Linked DNA regions of Homo sapiens. The protein of the gene in region 1 purifies or fractionates together with the protein of each later gene. This does not show direct contact. Each region holds a gene or a part of one and is shown on either strand. Other genes may lie near its edges.

Region 1 (3,813 bases):
GCAGGTGCCTGTAATCCCAGCTACTCGGGAGGCCGAAACCCTGTCTCTACTAAAAATACCAGAAAGTTACCCAGGCCTGGTGGCAGGTGCCTGTAATCCCAGCTACTCGGGAGGCTGAAACCCTGTCTGTACTAAAAATACCAGAAAGTTACCCAGGCCTGGTGGCAGGTGCCTGTAATCCCAGCTACTCGGGAGGCCGAAACCCTGTCTCTACTAAAAATACCAGAAAGTTACCCAGGCCTGGTGGCAGGTGCCTGTAATCCCAGCTACTCGGGAGGCTGAAACCCTGTCTCTACTAAAAATACCAGAAAGTTACCCAGGCCTGGTGGCAGGTGCCTGTAATCCCAGCTACTCGGGAGGCCGAAACCCTGTCTCTACTAAAAATACCAGAAAGTTACCCAGGCCTGGTGGCAGGTGCCTGTAATCCCAGCTACTCGGGAGGCCGAAACCCTGTCTCTACTAAAAATACCAGAAAGTTACCCAGGCCTGGTGGCAGGTGCCTGTAATCCCAGCTACTCGGGAGGCTGAAACCCTGTCTCTACTAAAAATACCAGAAAGTTACCCAGGCCTGGTGGCAGGTGCCTGTAATCCCAGCTACTCGGGAGGCTGAAACCCTGTCTCTACTAAAAATACCAGAAAGTTACCCAGGCCTGGTGGCAGGTGCCTGTAATCCCAGCTACTCGGGAGGCTGAAACCCTGTCTCTACTAAAAATACCAGAAAGTTACCCAGGCCTGGTGGCAGGTGCCTGTAATCCCAGCTACTCGGGAGGCTGAGGCAGGAGAATGGCTTGAACCCGGGAGGCGGAGGTTGCGGTGAGCCGAGATTGTGCCACTGCACTCCAGCCTGGGGGACAAGATTGAAATTCCGTCTCTAAAGAGAAACGTTCAGATTCTACAGGGACCAGGTAGATGTCTTTCTACTCACGTGGAGTGAGCTTTTTCTTGGGAGGAAATGATGACACACTGTTATGTTTCGATTTTTCAAAATTACTCAGCCTTTTTGGTTAAAAAAAAAAAATCTAGGGCTGTACATATCTTACCAACCACTTTTCCAAAGGGTTACATACTCTGATGAATGAACCTACTTCCCAAAGATTCAAAATGCAATTCTTCTTTTCGATAAAAATTTCAGCTTAACTATTAAAGCCTCTCTCTCTCTTTTTTTTTTTTAATTTCCAGCTTTTAAGAAAAATGGATGAATGAGGCAAACTCTCTAATACCGTTAATGTCTGGGATTCTTTCTCTCTCTCTCCGTCATTTTACAGCGGTTGTAACATTTTGACATAAAAAATGTTGAAGGGGACTTTTGGTTTGTATAAAGAATATCAGAAGATACAAATGAGACGGGTCCAAATGGATCTACAGTTCAGCTCAGTGACAAGATAGAAAGTGTTATGCGGAAGAAAAAAAGAAGTTGTTTTTTTTTTTCTTTTATCCCCACCTCAGGGAGAAGTATCTAAATCAGAAGTTAGGAAAGAAAACCACCAAGCTTGAATCCAGAAAGATGCAAATGTGTTATGGAAATAAGAGAGTTGACCAGTGGATGTTAGTAAATGTTGGGAGAAGATAGTTTCTCTCTGGGCAGGCTGTGGTAACTAATGCCAATCATGCAGATGGATCTTCTCGGAGGTCACCAAACCCCTTGCTGTGTTCCCAGAAAACCAATCAGAACATGGAACGTGGATCTCCCGAAATCTGGGGGCAGAACCCTTGAATGTTTTTGGTTAGGTCATTTCAAGCAACTGTCCAGCCCATGCCAGCTGTGACGACAAGTTGCTATCTGCTGTTTATAAAACTGGGGGCACGTTGGGAGGCCGAGGCGGGCAGATCACCTGAGGTCAGGAGTTCGAGACGAGCCTGGCCAACACGGTGAAACCCCGTCTCTACTATAAATACAAAAAATTAGCCGGGGGTGGTGGCAGGTGCCTGTAGTCCCAGCTACTCGGGAGGCTGAGGCAGGAGCATCGCTTGAACCCGGGAGGCGGAGGTGGCAGTGAGCTGACATTGCGCCACTGCACTCCAGCCTGGGCGACAAAGCAAGTCTCTGTCTCAAAAATAAAAAACAAAGAAATAAAAGAACTGGGGGAACGCAGAAGATGGAGTAGGGGAGAAAGAAAAGCTGGAACCACCTACATCTGCAAAAACTTGAAAACTCTCTGGATCTCTCCCTGGCTTTTACGCTTCCCAACCAGAAACAGCTCAGGTACCAAACTGATATCTTGGCACCACCGTGCCCTCTTTTATCCCCTTCAGAAACACAACCACACTCCCAGCGCGCCCAGGGCCATCTCTACACCCGTGATTTTTGCAAAGGGCCCTCAGTGGCCAGGCGGCCAGCGCTGGGAGAAGAGGTAACGCCTTTTCCACGTTGGACGCTGACGGGGTCAAGAGTGCACGGCTATTTTTTTTTTAATCTATAATATTTATAATATTGCACTTCACTCCATGTCAGTAAAGTTAATGCTGCATATCAGTATGACACCTTGCAACCACGCGTCCGTCTCTTATGCAAGTCTTTTGCGTCTGAATCCTGTAACACAGCAAAAAAAAAAAAAAAAAAAAAAAAAAAAAAAAATACCAATCCAAAACAAAACCAGACCCAATTTGGGAATCAAACACTGGAAAAGTTATAAAGTCGGTCCTCATTCAGGTCCCCGGAACGTGGGAGTCCCAACGTGGGAGGTTCGGGTCTCCCTCCCCTCCCTTTCCAAAGCCCGCGGTTCACGTCCTCAGCCTCAGCCAGAGAACTATTTCCTTATTGCTGCCTGGGAGGCTCCGGGGGAGCGGTGGAGGAGAGCCCGGCCCCTGCCTCCTGGGATTCCGAAGTCCACATTCAAATCCACACCCGTTCCGCAGCCTCTCGGGATGAAGGAAGGAGCATGGTAGTAAAGAAAATCGTTGGCAACGAAGAAATGGCATTTTCATCGGAGACCAGCTCCGGGATCTTTGCAGTTTCAATAGACTCTAAGGATCTTCCAAACGTGTGTAGTTAACCGCATGCATAGGGTATAGCAGAGGAAGACGCAGCCAGGCGGGGGTTTACCCTTCTCCAGGGTCCCAGGACGCACGGGCAGCCTTGGAGAGGCCCGGGCTGGACGCACGGCCGCTCACCCGCTCCGCCTTCTGCACCATCTCCGCGAGGGTCTGGCTGGGTCGTGCGTGGACGGTCCCGGGAGCCTCCCTCCTCAGGCCTCTTGCAGGAGCTCCCGGGGTGCCCGGAGCACGGTGGCCGCGGAAGGAGCTCCAGGCGGGGTTGAGTGCAGGACGCGCGGTGCAGGCGGGGTGCGCGGAGCCCGGGAGTCCGGGCGCGCGGGGGGCTGCGCGGCGGGTCAGAGCCCCAGGGCCTCCGCGTGCTTCCGCGCCTTGAGCCGCAGGTCGGCGATGCTGGAATTCTTGCTGTTGCTTTTGGCGGCGGCGGCGACCACGGCGGCGGCCGAGGCGGACTCGGCCAGCGACGCGATGGGCAGCCCGAAGGGCGGCGGGGGGAACATCAGGTAGGGCGCGTGCGCCGCCAGGTGCGGGTGCAGGTGCGGGTGCGCGTGGGCCACGCCTTCCAGCTGCAGCTGAGCCTGGACCTGCGGGAGCGGACCCGGCGGGGTGAGGGCGCAGGATGGGGACTGGGGGGCCTGCTCCGCCCCGCGCCCCCGGAAACCTCCAACGTGCCTCTTCTCCCCTAGGGAGCGTCGCCCCTTCTCCAGCCGTGGAGACCACCCCACACCCGCCTTTCCTCCTTCCCCCTGGCCCAGAATTGGCGCTGCCACTGGATGCATCCGCGGGAGCCGGGCCAGGGGAATCCGAACAGCTCCCTGCAAA
Region 2 (3,813 bases), on another chromosome or scaffold:
CTCACAATCTAGCGTTAAACCTTTAAAGAATTTCTTTAAAAATCCACACACACGCACACACGCACACACACACACACACACACACACACACACACTTGAAAGAAGTCGCTGCACCGGCAAAGACGCGCTTTAAGCTTACTATGAAATACAAAAGTGCACTCTTCTATATCTACATATAAAACATATTAGAAATAAAACTGTGTAAAATGTTTGCTGTGCAAACTCCAAAAAGTCAGGTGCGTCTGCTCCTGCCCCTACTGCAGGGAGTCACTGTTCTCCAAGACCAGCCCGCTGATGTGGGCAGGGGCCAGGGCACCCGCATCCTCCTCTGTGCTGTCCACAGACTCGTCCTCGCTCTGCCCTGCCATCATGACCTGCTGCACCGCCAGGGTGGCCCCGTCCGAGGACAGAGACTGAAGGCTGTCCACGTTCATGTTCACGGGCGTGGTGATGGTGACAACAGCTCCTGCGGCAGGATGAAGGTGTGTCATTATTTAAATTAGTACTCACAGAAAAACACTTTATTACTCAATTGGGTGCTGTTTGCTCGTTTGACCTAAAGTTAAAATAAAACACCTATATATGTTTAGGGAATGTTCAACAGGGATTTAAGAAACTGTTTCTGGGCCGGGCGCGGTAGCTCATGCCTGTAATCCCAGCACTTTGGGAGGCTGAGGCAGGCGGATAACGAGGTCAGGAGATCAAGACCATCCTGGTGAACACGGTGAAACCCCGTCTCTACTAAAAATACAAAAAATTAGCCGGGCGTGGTGGCAGGCACCTGTAGCTACTCCGAGCTACTCGGGAGGCTGAGGCAGGAGAATGGCGGGAACCTGGTAGGCAGAGGTTTCAGTGAGCCGAGATTGCGCCATTGCACTCCAGCCTGGGCAACAGAGTGAGACTCTGTCTCAAAAAAAAAAAAAAAAAAAAACAAAGCAAACAAATAAAAAAAAATAAAAACACATGCACACAAAACCATCCAAAATATGAAGACCTCATGCGAACAGAAAGATGCCTATAAAACACATCAGAATGGCTGCCTACGTCAGGGGATGGAGAGCAGAGGCCACAGGGAACAAGCAAAAACAAGAGAAGGGCATGGGGGATGAAGAGAAAGAAGCCACGTGGTGAGAACGGGGTAAGTCCCTCCTCCACACCCGGCGTCGGAGGGAAAAGGAGAGCAAACACAGAAGCAAAGGAGAAGATCCATGGGCATGACTGTGTCTTTGAGACAGAATTAATGATTTCATATCTCTATCACGTGTTTTACATTCTCTACTACTGGTGCTCCTAACTCTTACTGAGAGCTCCCGTGCACGCAGAATGCAGCTTCCTCATGTTTTAGTTGCAGAGAAAGAGAACCACGCACTCTCGTTCACCACATTACCTGAGGCTCACAGCTAACAGGCCTGATCCAGGCCTCTTGTTCATAATCCCCACCCCATGGTCCACCATGTCTGGCCTTGGCCGGCCACCTGTACCTTCCGACATGGTGAGCTCGCTCGGCGGTGGCTGTGCGACTCCTGATGCAATAGAATCAGGCCAAAACCTCTGAACTGGCCGGTTCTGAGCAGTTTTTTTCTTTGTTTTGGGGGTCTCTGAACAACTTGAATCCAACATTGGCTGAAGAATTCGTCTTCTGGCATTGATGAACCTGGAGTCAACAAAGAGAAGCTTCCATGAAAACAGCCTTCGTAAAGACCCTATACAGGATTAACAAATCCTTCTAACAAACACGCTGCTCTACGAAGCACGCTACAAAGAATGACTCAAGTTCTCCACTATAGTAACTACTTAAGAGGACTCAACAGCTCTTCTGAATTCTCTAAATGCCCAGAAACACAGAGCCTGTTGTTTTAAAAATCATGCAAATAAGCACCAACTCGTCCATGGCATTTTTTTTTTTGTCTCAACTCCTTTAGGGCATGTTTGTGAACTAGATACTCATAACGACATAGATGATACTGTTGAATTTGTGAATCTGACACTGTTTTCCCTAAGGAAGAAAAATGTTAAAGAAGCAAGACTTTCTGTAGTGCCATCATGCCTGAGACGATCGGGCAGTCTGCACTCGTCTGGACGTCACCAGATCACCAACGGGGCCGAGCCTCTGGGTGGCAACGTGTCTGAGCCATCAGAGAATGGGACTGCCACCTCCTCTTGTTTCACCACAAAGCACGATCTAAGGCAAGAGCTGCATCTTTTCAAAAACCATTCCCAATGATGAGCTGTTTCTTAGATGACTGGAGGCGTAAGTCCTCCAGTGGTCCTAGACATGTGGCCAGCACAGCACGTAGGCACCAGCAGTGATGAAATCCCCGACAGACGCTGGCGACTCTGTCAGACCAGGCACTCACGCCTGTGATAAGACTCCACAGAGAACGAGAGCAGCAACAATCACAGGCTGGCAGGGCAGGCTGGACATTGTTTCTGTATTTTTGAGATGGAGTCTCGCCCTGTCGCACAGGCTGGAGTGCAGTGGCACGATCTCAGCTCACCGCAACCTCCGCCTCCTGGGTTTAAGCGATTCTGCTGCCTCAGCCTCCTGAGTAGGTGGGACTATAGGCGCCCACCACCTCGCCCAGCTCATTTTTGTATTTTTAGTAAACGGGGTTACACCATGTTGGCCAAGATGGTCTCGATCTCTTCACCTTGTGATCTGCCTGCCTTGGTCTCCGAAAGTGCTGGGATTACAGATGTGAGCCACTGCACCTGGCCCAACAGTCACAGGTTGGCAAGGCAGGCTGGACATTGTTTCATATCAAATGAGTATGATAGCAATCTCAAAATACATTAAGATTAAAGGCTGCTGTCTTCAGTTCCCATTCTTATGCTATGAGCTGTTGCCTTTAAATGTGAGAAAGTGCAAGGAGACTCAAATCCCTAGGCCAGCTTTTCCTCCTGCAGTGACTAGAGGACAAAGATAGCAAACCAGACATGCGTTCTGCTGCACCCACCACCCTATGCCACTGACTGGGCCACTTTGCTACAAAAAGAGCTGAAATGGAAAGAAACGGAAAGAAAAACAACATCTGTCCCGTGAAAGCGCCTATCAAACCAGAACCCGTCCAGATTCATGCATTACCCCAACCTAACGCAAAAGCAGCAATACCAACCATGCTTAAGGCCTCGTTTCTGTCTTCTTTTTTCAGTAACATGAATGATAAAGTAGTTGACCTCTTGCTAGAGTCACACATTGCTCATCTATTAAAAGCCAGACTTCTCTATCTGGATAGCTGAGTAGCCATGTTCACGATATCAGGGAAACAAAAGCATTACTTTTAGACTCAGATTCTACTCTGGTTTGTCACTGTGACAACTTCTTTCTTTTTTTAATGCCCCCCTCTGCAAAACAACAACACTAGAACTGGATCAGCTCTAAGGTTGCTTAATTTTAAAAGTCCAAGATTTAAAAATATCTACAATTATATTAGCACACAGTCTAATAATAATGAAGCAGATCGGATCCCGCCATGCTTCATTTAGAGGAACCTGGTGATCCCTGCAGCACAAGCTCCATGGCCACCCACAACCCCAGCGAGACCTGGGAGGGAAGGCCCCACTGCTACTGTAATGTGTTGGTTGTTTTCTTTTTTTTTGAGACTGAGTCTCACCCTGTCGCCCAGGCTGGAGTGCAATGGTGCGATCTGGGCTCACTGCAACCTCCACCTCCCGAGTTCAAGCCATTCTACTGCCTTAGCCTCCTCAGTAGCTGGGATTACAGGTGTGCACCACCACACGCAGCTAATTTTTCTATTTTTAGTAGAGACAGGATTTCACCATGTTGGTCAGGCTGGTATTGAACTCCTGACC

Evidence for each region.
Region 2: the proteins of SHOX (region 1) and PKNOX1 purify together in Homo sapiens (affinity purification with mass spectrometry; one large-scale study listed by BioGRID and IntAct). This does not show direct contact.

What each region holds. Positions count from the first base shown.
Region 1 is NC_000023.11:644,153-647,965, reverse strand, and holds part of SHOX (short stature homeobox protein), read right to left. Parts: intron 3,576-3,813; coding exon 3,330-3,575; 3' UTR 1-3,329. UniProt on the Homo sapiens protein: Controls fundamental aspects of growth and development.
Region 2 is NC_000021.9:43,026,543-43,030,355, reverse strand, and holds part of PKNOX1 (homeobox protein PKNOX1), read right to left. Parts: intron 1,655-3,813; coding exon 1,482-1,654; intron 467-1,481; coding exon 255-466; 3' UTR 1-254. UniProt on the Homo sapiens protein: Activates transcription in the presence of PBX1A and HOXA1.